2 separate regions of the Homo sapiens genome follow, and region 1 is linked to region 2. The links come from fine-mapping of genetic effects on gene expression. Tissue or cell type: atrial appendage. Region 2 holds a variant in brackets; the other region holds the start of a gene. All regions are shown on one strand. Distances are from middle to middle.

Region 1 (8,104 bases), 960 kb before region 2:
AGGTGGGAGGACTGCTTGAGCCCAGGAGTTCGAGACCAGCCTGGGCAACATAGTGATAACCCGTCTCTACAAAAATTTCTTTTAAAAATTAGCCAGGTCGGCTGGGCGCAGTGGCTCACGCCTGTAATCCCAGCACTTCAGGAGGCTGAGGTGGGTGGATCACGAGGTCAAGAGATCGAGACCATCTTGGCCAACATGGTGAAACCCCGTCTTTACTAAAAATACAAAAATTAGCTGGGCGTGGTGGCATGCGTCTGTAGTCCAGCTACTCGGGAGGCTGAGGCAGGAGAATCTCTTGAACCCGGGAGGCAGAGGTTGCAGTGAGTTAAGAGTGAAACTCCGTCTCAAAATAAATAAATAAATAAATAAATAAAGGGCTGGGCGTGGTGGCTCTCACCTGTAATCCCAGCACTTTGGGAGGCCAAGGCGGGCCTCCTGAGGTCAGGAGTTCAAGACCAGCCTGACCAACAGACCAACATGGAGAAACCACATCTCTACTAAAAATACAAAATTAGCCGGGCATGGTGGCACATGCCTGTAATCCCAGCTACTCAGGAGGCTGAGGCAGGAGGATCATTTGAATCCAGGAGGCGGAGGTTGCGGTGAGCCAAGATCGTGCCATTGCATTCTAGTCTGGGCAACAAGAGCGAAACTCCATCTCAAAAAAAAAAAAATTAAATATATGATTAAAAAAGGATCCTATACACTCCAAAGTCAACTCCCTAACTGATATGACAAAAATTACCAATAAAGGCAGGGATGCTGAGAATCAGGAAGCCCACATTATTCTGCATTAAATACAGACTCTAGTACAAAGGAGAAAATACCATCATGTTATTAAGAGAATGACACCCAACCCAATTAACCCAAAAAGGTCTCTTTGGGATAAAGTAGCAACAAAAAATTGTTATTCTAATACCAATACCCAATTGTCTCAGACACCTACGACACTTGTGATGCCATAGTCTTCTTCATTCGTTCAGTTCTCTCTATCAGTCCCTCCTTTGAAAGAGATGATATGCGTGCATCACCCTCAGGAGGAACATAGGCATCAAATATACCAGCTGTAATAAAGGAAGAAAAAAATTAAGAAAGTGTTGAAAGATTGAGAAAAACTCATAAAATTGAAGTAATGTAAAATTGGGAAGGATTGTGGATATGAAGTAGACTAATGAAACAGACTTCCATGTAGAGAGAACTATGTTACACTAGAAAAAAACAAAACAAGGCCGGGCACAGTGGCTCACACCTGTAATCCCAGTACTTTGGGAGGCCGAGGCGGGCGGATCACAAAGTCAGGAATTCAAGACCAGCCTGGCCAAGATGGTGAAACCCCATCTCTACTAAAAATACAAAAATTAGCCGGGCATGGTGGCAGGTGCCTGTAATCCCAGCTACTTGGAAGGCTGAGGTAGGAGAATCGCTTGAACCCAGGGGGGCAGAGGTTGCAGTGAGCCCAGATTGTGCCACTGGGCGACAGAACGAGACTCTGTCTCAAAAAACAAAACAAAACAAAACAAAAAAAGCCAGAAAGATTTAAGTCTTCTCTCAGAGCCTCAGTTTCTACTTCCACAAAATGGAGAAATTTCACTCTTGCCTTCTAGGGACAGTGTGAAAGTAAGTTCAAAGAACAACTTCATGATATATAGTGTATATAAGGTTAATCATTATTGAGGTTGAACTGACTTCGTGCTTAATTAAATATTATCAATCATAGTCCAAGTCATCCCAAGTTCCAGAAGATCTCTGACAGAAGGATCCCAGGTCAGGGTCCCAGAAATACCTCACCTGTACAGGCCAGATGTATGGAACGGTCCGATTTTTCTGGAGGAATAACCAATCCTGCTTTCCGGGCATGTTGCATAAACTCCTTTTCTGTTTTAAATTTAGGTTGATAAATAGGAGGTGTGAAACGTTTTTTAGTTCTTACTGGAACTATAGCTGCGGACTGAGTCACCAGAACTGGCTGGAAGGTAAAGGAAAGGTTAGGAACCTAGAAAAAAGATCTACTATCTTTTACAAACTCTAAGCAAAGCACTATAGAGAGGGAATATCCAAAGAATGCTTCAGGAACAATTATAAAACAATATCACAGGGAAAAAATGCATTAGGACCTTAATACTTATGGGTGTCTCTAAATAGAAGACAGTTAGCAACCTTTATTAACATCACATTTACTAAAGGCTTTCCTTTAGAACTTCCCACAGTACAGGACTATGCTAACTCCTACGGATACTGAGTTGATCAAAGCAAGTTTCAAAAACTGATGGTGATGGGGAAACACCAACTCAATACTGAAATGGGCAGAATACTATTCTTTATTATTTTTTGAGGCAGATCGCTAGCCTAGAGTGCGATGGCACGATCACGGTTCACTGCAGCCTTGACCTCCTGGGCTCTAGCTATCCTCCCACCGCAGCCTCCCAAGTAGCTGGGACTAAGGAGTGCGCCATCGCATCTGGCTAATTTTAAAATTTTTTTGTAAAGACCAGGTCTTATATGTTGCCCAGGCTCATTTCGAACTCCTGGGCTCAAGCCATCCTTCTGCCTCGGACTTTCAAAGTGCTGGGATTACAAGTGTGAACCACCGCGCCGGGCCCTGAATGCTATGCTTAAAGCATAAGCAAAGTCCTCTTGTAGGCATCTGCTCCATATGTACTCGTGATATTTTGCTCATCCTATCGGGAGTCTCGCTGTAAACTTTATTCTGTCGTTTTAGCACCCAACTGACCAATAAACCCTCGAAAGATCAGGAGATCTTTTCTCTCTGATCATGAGGTTTGCTCAGACGGGGCAGTGACAATATGGGACGCCCTCATTTTCGGCTACTCTTCAACGTAGTTCACTTATAAGAATCGAAGATTAGGGAGTCCACCTTCCAACCCATTACTTGTCTCTCCTTTAATATCTCCTCGCCAGACAGACCCAAACCAATCCGGAAAAACTTAATATCCGTTAATTCACTCGCTCTCATGGCCCTGTCTAGGCTATCCCCATTCGACCACTGAGCTCCGCAGCTAGGTCCTGTCCACCTAAGCCTCTTCCCCGGCCTAGGTATGACTCGTATTGTCCCAGCTCACCAAGGACAATTGCACAGAGAGTATTTCCCTCGACTCTGTCCTCTCCTGTAGCCCCTAGGGTCCTATCGGCCCCGTCCCTACCCACCTGCCGAGACCACCAGCCCAAAAACCTCGATAAACAAGAGAACCCTTGAGGTATGGGGGCTGCCATCTTGTTCCCGCAAAGGCCGCCGGGAAGGGAGCTGAGAGTGAAGAGCGTCGGGTAGGAGAAAAGCCGCATAGGGTGGAGCTAGCACAGGAGTGGAATTTTCCAGGGAGCGCGCCCTCCGCCGAAATGTGAGCAGCGAGGACGCGCACGTGCTCGCGGGAGTGGGGGAGGGTGGAGTAAGGAGGGCGGAGTACGGCCGCGCGTGCGCAGGGAGACAACGTTGGGCGTAGGGTGGAACGAACTGTTGTCCCCCGCCAGCGAGAGAGCGCTTGAACGCGAGCTGCGCCTGCGCCCGAGGCTTTCTGAAGGCCGGGGAATGGGCATTGCTGTATGCTTGGCACATTGCCGTTTATTCCATTAGTTAAAAAAGGAAAAGGAGGCCGGGCGCGGTGGCTCACGCCTGTAATCCCAGCACTTTGGGAGGCCGAGACCGGTGGATCACCTGAAGTCAGGAGTTCGAGACCAGCCTGGCCAAAATGACGAAACCCCGTCTCTACTAAAAATACAAAAATTAGCCGGGCGTGGTGGCACACGCCTGTAGTCCCAGCTGCTTGTAAGGCTGAGGCAGGAGAATCGCTTGAACCCAGGAGGCAGAGGTTGCAGTGAGCCGAGATCGCGCCACTGACTCCAGCCAGAGCTAGACTCCGTCTAAAAAAAAAAAAAAAAAATTAGTCGTAGGGTGGAACGCACGGTTGTCATGCGCCAGCAAGAGAGCGCCGGGCTTGGTGGCAGGCGGCTGTAGTCTGAGCTACTTGGGAGGCTAAGGCAGGAGAATCCCTCGAACACAGGAGGCGGAGGCTGCAGTGATCCGAGATCCCGCCACTGCACTCCAGCGTCGGTGACAGAGAAAGACTTTGTCTCAAAAAAAAACAAAAAAAGAGATTGACTACTGTCTTCTACTATGTTTACTAAAGCAGAAGACACGTGAATTGACAAAAACATTTGTGATTTGTCATTTCGGAAAGGAGTCACAGAGCAATTACGTAATTTACTTAAGGTTAGATAGATGATAACTGGCAGAACCGAGATTTGAATCTAAGCAGTCTAATTCCAGAACCCATGCAGGTAACTGCTACGTGCTGCTTCATGTTAAGTTGTTAAAGGATTCGTGATGTTGGGATCACCCTGGTAAATTCAGTAGTGTAAACGTTGCTGAAAGGCAGACACTTTCCACACTTAGCCGTTGGTTATTATTCTGCCAATTACAGCTTACAGAGTTCTCATCTACAATATTTTGCAATAAGTTAGGAGCTACAGGCTGTACATACAAGAAATTTCAGGCTGAAGTAGAATTGCTACAAAGGTCGAAGCAAAGTGCTGGGGACTATCAGAAGAACTGAAAGATTACTTTTGGGTTTGGAGATCACGTGTTGTTGTTGTTTTTGGAGACGGAGTCTCACTCTGTCACCCAGGCTGGAGTGCGGTGGCACAATCTCGGCTCACTGCAACCTCTGCCTCCCAGGTTCAAGCGATTCTCCTGCCTCAGCCGCCAGAGTAACTGGGATTACAGGTGCACGCTGCCATGCCCGGCTAATTTTTTCTAGTTTAGTAGAGACGAGGTTTCACCGTGTTGCCCAGGCTGGTCTCCAACTCCTGAGCTCCGGCAATCCGCCCACCTCGGCCTCCCAAAGTGCAAGGATTACAGGCGTTTTTTAAAGCTTGACTTCGCAGCTATATCGTACATTCTTATGTGGTAAGTATTTCCCTACAAGTTCCAGCCACAGTATTGAACCTATAGCACGACACATTAATAGTGACATGAAATTAGTGCTGTATGTATGTGTTGAAGAGTATGTGGGGTCGTGTGGGGTGGCTCACACTTGTAATCCCAGCACTTTGAGAGGCGGAAGTGGGTTAGATCCCTTGAGTCCAGGAGTTCAAGACCAGCCTGCCCAATATGGCAAAACCCTATCTCTACAAAAAAATTAAAAAATTAGGCCGGGTGCGGTGGCTCACACCTGTAATCCCTGCACTTTGGGAGGCCGAGGCAGGCGAATCACGAGGTCAGGAGATTGAGACCATCCTGGCTAACATGGTGAAACCCCGTCTCTACTAAAAATACAAAAAAAATTAGCCGGGCATGGTGGCAGACGCCTGTAGTCCCAGCTACTCCAGAGGCTGAGACAGGAGAATGGAGTGAACCTGGGAGGCGGAGCTTGCAGTGAGCCGAGATTGTGCCACTGAACTCCAGCCTGAGCGACAGAGCAAGACTCCGTCTCAAAAAAAAAAAAAAAAAAAAATAGCTGGGCATGGTGGCCCCAGCTACTGGGGAGGCTGAGGTGGGAGGATGGCTTAAGTCCAGGAGGCAGAGGTTGCAGTAAGCCAAGATCCCACCACTGCACTCCAGCCTGGGCAACAGAGCTATTCAGTGCCTATAGAAGCATAGGGAAACAAGAAAAAAGAAAAAAATAGAATATATGTTATTAAGCATTTAAATAAGCTATATCTGATTATTTAACAGACTCCTGTCCACCTACTCTAATCCCTAGAAAATAAAACATGATTTTTTTTTTCTCTTGAGACAGTTTTCACTCGTCAGCCAGGATGGAATGCGATAGCGCAATCTTGGCTCGCTGCAACCTCCATCTCTCGGGTTCAAGTGATTCTCCTGCCTCAGCCTCCCAAGTAACTGGGATTACAGGTGCCCACCACCACGCCCAGCTAATTTTTTGTATTTTTAGTAGAGATGGGGTTTCACCATGTTGGCCGGGATGGTCTCAAACTCCTGACCTCAGGTGATCCGCCCACCTCGGCCTCTCAAATTGCTGGGATTACAGGGGTGAGCCACCGTGCCCGGCCAAAACATGAATTATTTTTACTGGTATTCCCAACCAAAGTGAGGAAAGTTTACTCCATGGATGAGAGGTGTTTTTTTTGTTTGTTTTTTTGTTTTTTTTCAGATGCAGTTTCACTCTGTCATCCAGGCTGGAGTGCAATAGCTCGATCTCAGTTCACTGCGACCTCTGCCCCCTGGGTTCAAGCGATTCTCCTGCCTCAGTCCCCCGAGTAGCTGGGATTACAGGTGCCTGCCACTATGCCTGGCTAATTTTTGTATTTTTAGTAGAGATAGGGTTTCACCACATCGCCAGGCTGATCTCTAATTCCTGACCTCAGGTGATCCATCTGCCTCGGCCTCCCAGAGTTCTGGGATTACAGGCGTGAGCCACCGCGCCTGGCCAAGATTATTGATTAATGCAGAACATTAATATAATTTATCTTAGATTACTTCCTCCACCATTGAGTTTTATGTTAGCCTCACACAGTAGCCAACACATCCCAGATCATCTCTGCCCACCCTCTGATCAGTTTCTCAGTTAATACAAACTTGTTCCATATCAGCCTGGATGAAATAATGATAGGGGAGTCAATATCATTTAATTGCTTAGAGATGAGCTATAAGTTAGTTTTGTTGTTGTTTGATGAGCTACTGTTTTGGAAAATTCATATCTTCCTACCTCATCAGCTTCATGGAAAATTGGGAGCTGGCCAGGCACAGTGGCTCACGCGTGTAATCCCAGCACTTCGGGAGGCTGAGGCAGGCAGATCACCTGAGGTCAGGAGCTCAAGACCAGCCTGACCAACATGGAGAAACCCCGTCTCTACTAAAAATACAAAAAATTAGCTGGGCGTGGTAGCGGGCGCCTGTAATCCCAGCTCTTCGGAAGGCTGAGGCAGGAGAATTGCTTGAACCCGGGAGGTGGAGGTTGCGGTGAGCCGAGATCATGCCATTGCACTCTAGCCTGGGCAACAAGAGCAAAACTCAATCCCCCCCAAAAAAAAAAAAAAAAAAAAAAAAGAAGAAAATTGGGAGCTGTCTGTTAGAGAAGTAACACCAAAAGGATATTTCTTTTCTTTCTTTTTTTTTTTGAGATGAAGTTTCACTTTGTTGCCCAGGCTGGCGTACAGTGGGACGATCTCGGCTCACTGCAACGTCGGCCTCCAGGTTCAAGTGATTCTCCTACCTCAGCCTCCGAAGTAGCTGGGATTACAGGTGCCCGCCACCAAGCCTGGCTAATTTTTTCTATTTTTAGTAAAGATGGGGTTTCACCGTGTTGGTCAGGCTGGTGTCGAACTCCTGACCTCAGGTGATCCACCTGCCTCATCTTCCTAAAGTGCTGGGATTACAGGCATGAGCCACCGTGCCCAGCCAAAAAGGGTATTTCTTAATCCTACAATCTTAGTAATTCACATTTCAGAAAAAGCAAGATAAAAAGATCTTGTCACGATGATGGGAGCAAGAGAAGAGAACTCATTGTGCAAGTAGAGGAAGGAATCGATTGTTAGGGGCTCAGTCTTGGCAAAGAACACTCTTGCACATAGTAGACACTCCAATATTTATTTATACAATAAGCAGATGTGAAGAATTCCAGTTGAAATATGATGGGGCAGGCCGGGCGCGGTGGCTCACGCCTGTAATCCCAGCACTTTGGGAGGCCGAGGCGGGTGAATCACGAGGTCAGGAGATCGAGACCATCCTGGCTAACACGGAAACCCCATCTCTACTGAAAATACAAAAAATTAGTCGGGCGCGGTGGCAGGCGCCTGTAGTCCCAGCTACTCAGGAGGCTGAGGCAGGAGAATGGCATGAACCCAGGAGGCGGAGCTTGAAGTGAGCAGAGATCTGGCCACTGCACTCCAGCCTGGGCGAAAAAGCGACACTCCATCTCAAAAAAAAAAAAAAAGAAAAGAAAAGAAAAAGAAATATAATGAGGCAGAAGGAAAAGTTGATTTCCTGTTTTTCCCAGTGAAGTGGGTTACTGGAATCCCTTGTTGTCGTATTGAAATTTCTAAATGGAGCCCGAAGAGGGCTGGGTGTGGTGGCTCACACCTCTAATCCCAGCACTTTTGGAGGCTGAGGCAGGCGGATTGCTTGAGG
Region 2 (8,104 bases):
TATAAATGCTGTTTGTCTCTGTAAGTGAGTAAACTGACTCACAAATTACACCAGAACAATCGTGCATATGTAATTTTCACATGTTGAGTGGTGATTCCCAAACATTTTAAAGTATTGACGGTTTCTCATCTGATGTCAAGGAACACTGTTGTCCACTTACTTTCATACTTTACAGTGAGTTATAGCATACAGAGTTATTAATAATACATTTATTATCTATTAATGTACCATATCTTAGAGCACTTCAAAATCACAATTGGGAATTATTATTTTTCTATTTTTATTTTTGCAGTTGCAAGATTTAATAGAGTGAAGACAGAGCTCCCATACAAAGGGAGGGGACCCAAAGAGGGTAGCTGTAGCTGGCTCGAATGCCTGGGTTTATATCCCGATCATTGTCCCTCCTGCTGTGCTGTCAGGCAACAGATGATTGGCTATTTCTTTATCTCCTGTTTTTGCCTAATTAGCATTTTAGTGAGCTCTCTTTAGTATCTGATTGGTTGGGCGTGAGCTAAGTTGCAAGCCCGGTGTTTAAAGGTGGAAGCGGTCACCTTCCCAGCTAGTCTTAGGGATTCTTAGTTGGTCTAGGAAATCTAGTTATTCCTGTCTCTCAGTCCCCCCTCTCAACAGGAAAACCCAACTGCTGTTGGGGAGGTTGGCCAACAACCACTCTAACTGCTTCCTGCTGAATTGGGGCGTAGTAGAGGTTGTGCAGTTGAGATTTCCTCGGGAGGGGTGCCTTTGATGTCATTAACATCAGAGCATGGGCTAGCAGGCCGGTCCAGGGGTCCGTGGTAGATTTTACTCATGGACTGCATCTGGGGCTCCATTTGAAGAACGATTTGTAGTTTTACTGCTTCGATTCTGGAAAAGACAAACTTAACAAGGAGGTTAAAGATACAGGGTCCAAAGAGGAGTAACAATATTATAGCTGCTAGAGGTCCTAAGAAGGGGAGAATCCAGGGCATCCATTGGCTGAGGAGGCCCCAGGGTCCAGTGTTTTGCAGCTCCTTTGCTCTACGTTATATTCGACCTTGAATTTCTTTAACTTTCTCGGTGATGATTCCGGATTGATTAACATAACAACAGCATTTTTCCTCTAAAAATAAAAAGGTTCCCCCGCTTTCCGCGGTTAGCAAGTCTAAAGCTCTTCGATTTTGAAGGACTACTGCTGCTAGGGAGTTAAGTTGATCTTGCAAGGTGACCAGGGTATCAGCGACCCATTCCATGTCACCATTTAGTTCTTGAGACAGTTTGTAGTAGAACTGAGTAGAGGTTGTGATACCGCCAATGCCAGTAGCTACTCCGCCTAGCACTCCTGCTCCAATAACAAAAGGAAGAATGGGTACTCTTTTGTTGCGGGGCTTAGGTATGACATGATTGTATAAATCTTGTTCAGTGTAGATGGGCATAGGGGCCACTAAGAATGAGAGGAAGCACACAGATTCTGAAGAGCCATTCAAACAATGATAGGCTGAGGTACCACAGACAAAAAATATTCCTGAGGGTAGGCAGACTATTCGTGTGGGAGGAGTTACCCACCTGATGCATTGGGAGTTGGCTGTGTCTATAGTATTGCTAAATTTTACACAGGTGAGGTTTGAGGTATGGGTTATTTCCAGATTGGAAAGAGGACCTACTAAAACAGAAGTGGTGTTTATTTCTGTGCTGAAGTTGTTCCATTGTTCAGGTATAGGGATTGAAATGTATGGCCTAAAGTGCAGGGGGAGGCACATCCAACAGTTAGTAGGGTTTTGGGCCGAGACCTCATGGAGCCCAGTCAGGGTGGTATTAAATAGGCTTACCAGGCCAGTATGGGTATGGAGGGTTTCATGTAGTTTTGAGAGATCTAGTCCTTTGTAGGGGCCAGGGGTGCTATGTACCCAGGTCAGTTGGGAGATTACTTCCTTTATGTGTTTTTCTGTTGCCTGATCTTGAACTCCACCCCCATCAGACATACTGGTATGAGTGAAGTGAGTCCTCCAAGTCCTCCAGGACAACTGGGATTAATCGTTTTTCCTGTCCAATAATGAGTATTTGCATGCATGCAAAGAGTGGCAGAGTTATAGCAGTTGTGGGGCATATGGGTGTGGGCAGTGAAGGTGGGGGTTCCCTTAGATAAACTCCTATACAATGGGGCATCAATATTTCCGGGACGCTGCATTCTCCATAGAAACTCTTGCTAAGGGGAGCTACTGGCATGGACGGGGCATGGACGGGGTGCAGTGGCATGGACGGGGTGCAGTGAGAGTGAAAGGGGGTAAGAGAACAGTAAAGAGAAAAATATGATAAGGGAGGGCCAGGGGATTTACGATTTTAGTTACTTTCCCCCTGGTTGTCATTTGAAGAGCAGGCGCAGATCCTCTAGAGGTTCACAGGAATAGCTAGCATTGTCTCATGGATTTTTGAGTTCCTTTGGCAGTATCCAGGGTTTGACTTGAGTGTGATGTATCCAAGACTCCGCTCCAGCCACTTTAACTGCCGTTAGGGTAGATAAAATGGCTGGGTAGTTTCCTTCCCAGGATGTATCTAGGGATGGGGAATTAGAGGGAAGGGACTTGACTAATACCATGTCACCAGGGTGGAATAGTTCCTTTCCCTCTTCTTGGGGACAGGCTCCCTGTAATGTTTTAAGAACCTGTTGATATTTGGCTAAGGAGATGATGTCTGCAACTAAGTTGGCTGTCTCTCGGTCAAGCCCAAGTTCATTGGTTAGGAAGGGCCGTCCATACAGCATTTTGTATGGACTAAGTCCTGCTTTTTGGGGAGAGTTTCGGATTCTTAGTAAGGCTATAGGCAACAGAGCAGGCCATGCGAGGTGGGTTTCCTGGATTAGCTTTTTTAGATGTCATTTGAGTGTTTTGTTCATTTTCTCCACCTTTCCTGAGGACTGTGGCCTCCAGGCGCAGTGTGAGTGATATTGTATACCTAACACCTGGGATACTCCTTGGGTTACTGTAGCCTTGAAAGCAGGGCCATTGTCACTCTGTAAGCCTTGGGGAAGTCCGAATCTGGGAATTATTTCATGAACGTTTATTACCTCTTGGGCCTTTTCTGTCCTACAGGGGAAGGCCTCTGCCCAACCAGTGAAAGTATCTACCCAAACTAGTAGATACTGAAATCCCTGAGATTTGGGCATATGGGTAAAATCTAGTTGCCAGTCTTCTCTTGGGTAGTGGCCTGTTCTTTGTTCTCCTGAAGGAGCTTGGCGATAAGGCAGGGGATTATTTCTTTGGCACACTTCACAGGCCCTGACTATCTGCTTGATAGTTTTGAAAAGGCCTGGTCCAGTAAATAATGATTTGGCCATCTGATGGGTGCTATCAATACCTAAGTGAAGGGTTTGGTGAAGGGTTTTAAGTAATTTCCATTGGTTAGCTGCAGGCAAAAGTATTTTTCCTTCTTTGGTGGCTAGCCATCCT[G/C]AGGGGAGGAAACTATGTCCCCGTGAGGTTCCCCATTCTATTTCTTCTTCTGAGTACTGGGGCTTGGTTTCCTGGAGGGGATTACCCCATACTAGGTGTCCTTCTATAAGCATTTCTAATGGAGGGTCCTGCCTTGCGGCTCTTTTGGCTCCAATATCTGGTTGGCGGTTCCCTTCTATTTCCCTTTCCTTTCCTTTCCTTTCTGATGACACCGGCAGTGTAAGACTGCCACCTCTTTAGGTTTCTGTACAGCCTAGAATAATCTCCTGATGGCTTCCCGATGTTTGATAGGTGTTCCTTGGAAGTTAGGAATTCCCTTTCTCTCCATATTGCTGCATGGGCATGGAGGACTAGGTAAGCATACTTAGAGTCTGTATATATATTTATCCTTTTTCCTGCTCCTAATTCTAGTGCCTGAGTGAGGGCTATGAGTTCTGCCAGCTGAGCAGTAGTTGCTGGAGTGAGGGCATTACTTTCAAGTATTCCATTATCACTGACCACTGCATACCCCACTTTTCAAAGTCCTTTTTCTACAAAGGAACTTCCATCAGTATACAAGTTGAGGTCGGGATCAGTCAAGGGAACCTCTAAAAGGTCCACAATTGGGAATTATTAATCTTTTTTTTTTTTTTTTTTCTAGACAGAGTCTCACTCTGTCACCCAGGCTGGAGTGCAGAGGCATGATCTCAGCTCACTGCAACCTCCGCCTCCCGGGTTCAAGTGATTCTTCTGCCTCAGCCTCCCGAGTAGCTGGGATTATACACTTGTTACCACACCCAGCTAATTTTTGTATTTTTAGTAGAGACGGGGTTTCACCATGTTGGCCAGGTTGGTGTTGAACTGCTGACCTCAGGTGATCTACCCACCTCGGCCTACCAAAGTGCTGGTATTTACAGGCGTGAGCCACCGCGTCCGGCCAATCTTTTTTTTTTTTTTTTTGTACAGATGGGATCTTGTTTTGATGCTCATGCTAGTCTTGAACTCCTGGACTCAAACAATCCTCCTGCCTCTGCCTCCCAAGTTGTTAGGATTATAGGCGTGAGCCACCGCGCCCAGGCTTATTTTCTGAATTAAAATAATTGATCTGGGTACAAGCTATTTAATACTGAGTTGATCTGTAGTTTTGAAATTTTAAAATAGGATTTTTGAGATGACAGAAGAAATATTGTTTCATTTAGTTTGGGTTTTTATTGTTGTGGGCTCTTATTTTGGTTTTTAAAAAATATTTTTAAATTTTTATGGGCAGCACTTCATTCCATAAAAGAGAATGAATGTTGCTGTTTTGGTCTTTATTAATTAGTTTCTTTTTCTTTCTTTTTTTTTTTTAAATTATACTTTTAAGTTCTGGGATACATGTGCAGAACATGCAGGTTTGTTATGTAGGTAAACACGTGTCATGATGGTTTGCTGTTAATTAGTTTCTTAGTTAGCTATTGGCAGTATCTAATCCTAACTGGTAAGGCCCTACATTTAGAAAAATTATACTTACTTGAGGTGATTATAGATTTTAAATTTGGTGATAGATTCATTTTCTTCTCATATCAGTGTCAGCACATTAGAGCCAAAAGTAGTCATTTTGGGGTGACATTTTAAAATGCATAATTTAAGAAAAAACTCATGAGGACAAGTAAAGTTTTTTTTTTTTTAATTAAAAATTACCTATCTGGAGTTTGTTTTAAAAGTATACACATACGTAAAATTCATAGGCCAGGCACAGTGGCTTACACCTGTAATCCCAGCAGTTTGGGAGCCTAAGGTGAGAGGATTGCTTGAGCCCAGGAGTTCAAGACCAGCCTAGGCAACATAGGGAGTCCCCATTTCTACAAAATATTTAAAAATTAGACCGGGCACAGTGGCTCACACCCATAGTCCTAGCACTTTGAGAGGCTGAGGTGGGTGGATCATGAGATCAGGAGTTCAAGACCAGCCTAGCCAAGATAGTGAAACTCCATCTCTACTAAAAATACAAAAGTCAGCCGGGCATGGTGGTGGGTACCTGTAATCCCAGCTACTTGGGAGGCCGAGGCAGAGAATTGCTTGAACCCGGGAGGCGGAGGTTGCAGTGAGCTGAGATCGTGCCATTGCACTCCAGCCTGGGCGACAGAGTGAGACTCCGTCTCAAAAAAGAAAAAAAAAATAGGCCGGGTGCGGTGGCTCACACCTGGAATCCCAGCACTTTGGGAGGCTGAGGCGGAAGGTCAGGAGATCGAGACCATCCTGGCTAACACGGTGAAACCCCATCTCTACTAAAAATACAAAAAATTAGCTGGGTGTTGTGGCGGGTGCCTGTAGTCCCAGGTACTCAGGAGGCTGAGGCAGGAGAATGGCATGAACCCGGGAGGCGGAGCTTGCAGTGAGTGGCAGTCGCACCACTGCACTCCAGCCTGGGCAACAGAGCGAGACTCCGTCTCTAAATAAATAAATAAATAAATAAATAAATAAATAAATAAATGAAAAATAAAAATAGAATTAGCCGGGCATGGTGGCACGTGCCTATAGTCCCAGCTACTGGGGAGGCTGAGGTAGGAGGATCACTTGAGCCCAAAGAGTTTGAGGCTGCAGTGAACCATGATTGTAGTACTGCATGCTGTATGGGTGACAGAGTGAGACCCTGTCTCAAATAAATAAATAATAAAATAAAAGTTATAGCCTCTCAATATATAGTGTTTGAAGCCAGATGAGCATTATGTAGTTTAAATATTATTTCAAACAACCATTACTCTATCCAGACCCTTACCATTTATTCCCCCATTACTAACAACCAAAATATCAATATCACAACAAGCAGCTTTTTCCTACTGCAAAGGTTTCCCCATTGATCATAATTATTTCCTGGACACCACCAAATGAAAATGAGATTAGGAATGCCTTATAGGCTTTTGAGAAAAATTTCTTTGAGGAAAAGGGAACTGGTTTTAATTTATGGGCATAGTTATCATGATCTCAATTTTCCTCCCTTGTAGAAATTAAAGGCCCTGAAATAGAATAGCCAAGGAAGTTAGTTCTCAAATTGCCTTGCTTCCACGTCTCAGCTATGGTTTATTAGATATAACCTCTGGCTGACCTCAGATATAGATTATTATTCATAACCTGCCTTTCTCACTTTTCATTTTCTCCATAGCTGTAAGAGCTCATTTTGGAGGAATAATGGATGAACCATCTCCCTTGGCCCAACCTCTGGAGCTGAACCAGCACTCTCGATTCATAATAGGTTCTGTGTCTGAAGATAACTCAGAGGATGAGATCAGCAACCTGGTGAAGTTGGACCTACTGGAGGAGAAGGAGGGCTCCTTGTCACCTGCTTCTGTTGGCTCAGATACACTCTCTGATTTGGGGATCTCTAGCCTACAGGATGGCTTGGCCTTGCACATAAGGTAAGAGAGAGTTCAATGGTCTACTTATTTAATCTGTCTTGTTAGTTTTGCTGATTATGTTCTGAAAAGAGCAAGGATGATTTCAGCTAAGACTGCTTTGCCTTTTCCTATGTCACTGAACTCAAAGCTTTGTTGAGGAAGTCAGAAATGATGTATTTTTCAGAAATCATGTATGTTCCCATCAAATTTTTCATGTCCTACTAGGTTTTTTTTGTTTTTGTTTTTGTTTTTTGAGACGGAGTCTTGCTCTGTTGCCCAAGCTGGAGTGCAGTGGTGCGGTCTCAGCTCACTGCAACCTCCGCCTCCTGGGTTCAAGCAATTCTTCTGCCTCAGCCTCCCAAGTAGCTGGGATTACAGGCGCCTGCCACCATGCCCAGCTAATTTTTTGTGTTTTTAGTAGAGATGGAGTTTCACCATGTTGGCCAGGCTGGTCTTGAACTCCTGACCTTGTGATCCGCCCACCTCAGCTTTCCAAAATGCTGGGATTAGAGGTGTGAGCTACCCCGCCCAGCCTATTTTTTTTTTTTTTTTTGAGATAGAGTCTCACTCTGTCGCCCAAATGGGAGTGCAGTGGTACAATCTCAGCTCACTGCAACCTCTGCCTCCCAGGTTCAAGAGATTCTCCTGCCTCAGCCTCCTGAATAGCTGGGACTACAAGTGCATGCCCTTGCGCCTAGCTGATTTCTGTTGTTTTTGATAGACACCGGGTTTCGCCATGTTGGCCAGGCTGGTCTCGAATTCCTGACCTCAAGTGATCCGCCTGCCTCAGTCTCTCAAAGTGCTGGGATTAAAGATATGAACCACTACACCTGGCCACTTCTACCTGCTAGGTCTTTCAGTGAGACCTAGTGAGTAAGAGTTAGGTTGAGGAACATCAGTTTTTGTACTACTTTGACTAACATTGTTCTAACTATCTTGATGATTGATAGGACTTCTCCAGGTGTTGTCAACTTCGTAGTAAGTTTTTTTGAACTAATTCATCAGATTGTCAGGAAGTTATATTCTGTTTCTAGCAGGGCCAGTCCCCAATAAAGGGCTGTTAATAGAGCTCTCCTTTTTCTCTAGAAACACAGTTCTCCCTAACTGAGAATGTCAGTACATAGTAACACTAGATTGTTTTTATTTATCGATGTTTGATTATATAACTAGCGTGTGAGATACTAACCTTTGGTCATTTACTTTTCAGTTCTTGGATTAAAAGGTCTGGATCAGTGGTTCTTGGTTCTCACTGTTCATCAGAATCACCTCGGGGAGCCTTGGGAGATAAGCCCCATCCCCAGAGATTTCGATTCATTTGATACTGGCTTG

Which allele goes with the higher level. Positions count from the first base shown, and alleles are read on the strand shown. Sizes are in standard deviations (SD) of each study's normalised expression.
For the expression in atrial appendage of the gene that starts at base 3,247 in region 1, allele C in region 2 goes with a lower level than allele G (large effect, 1.0 SD a copy in GTEx).

The links. PIP is the estimated chance that this variant, and not a neighbour inherited with it, causes the effect.
Region 1: MRPL45 starts here. The variant in region 2 is fine-mapped to the expression of MRPL45 in atrial appendage (GTEx, PIP 0.96).

Annotation. Positions count from the first base shown.
Region 1 is chr17:38,292,311-38,300,414 of GRCh38, reverse strand. It overlaps MRPL45 (mitochondrial ribosomal protein L45), which reads right to left and starts at 3,247. Exons shown (of 8, transcript NM_032351.6): 1 at 3,166-3,247; 2 at 1,789-1,966; 3 at 947-1,064. The coding sequence starts at 3,231. It overlaps LOC105371760 (a long non-coding RNA gene), which reads left to right and starts at 4,810. Exons shown (of 3, transcript XR_934732.2): 1 at 4,810-4,921. RefSeq lists enhancers at 2,812-3,362, 3,363-3,911.
Region 2 is chr17:37,328,865-37,336,968 of GRCh38, reverse strand. ACACA (acetyl-CoA carboxylase alpha) reads left to right here. Exons shown (of 56, transcript NM_198834.3): 3 at 6,544-6,796. Among named protein-coding and RNA genes, the nearest start is that of C17orf78, 43 kb to the left of the region's middle. The variant G/C (reference allele first, on the strand shown) is at 3,423.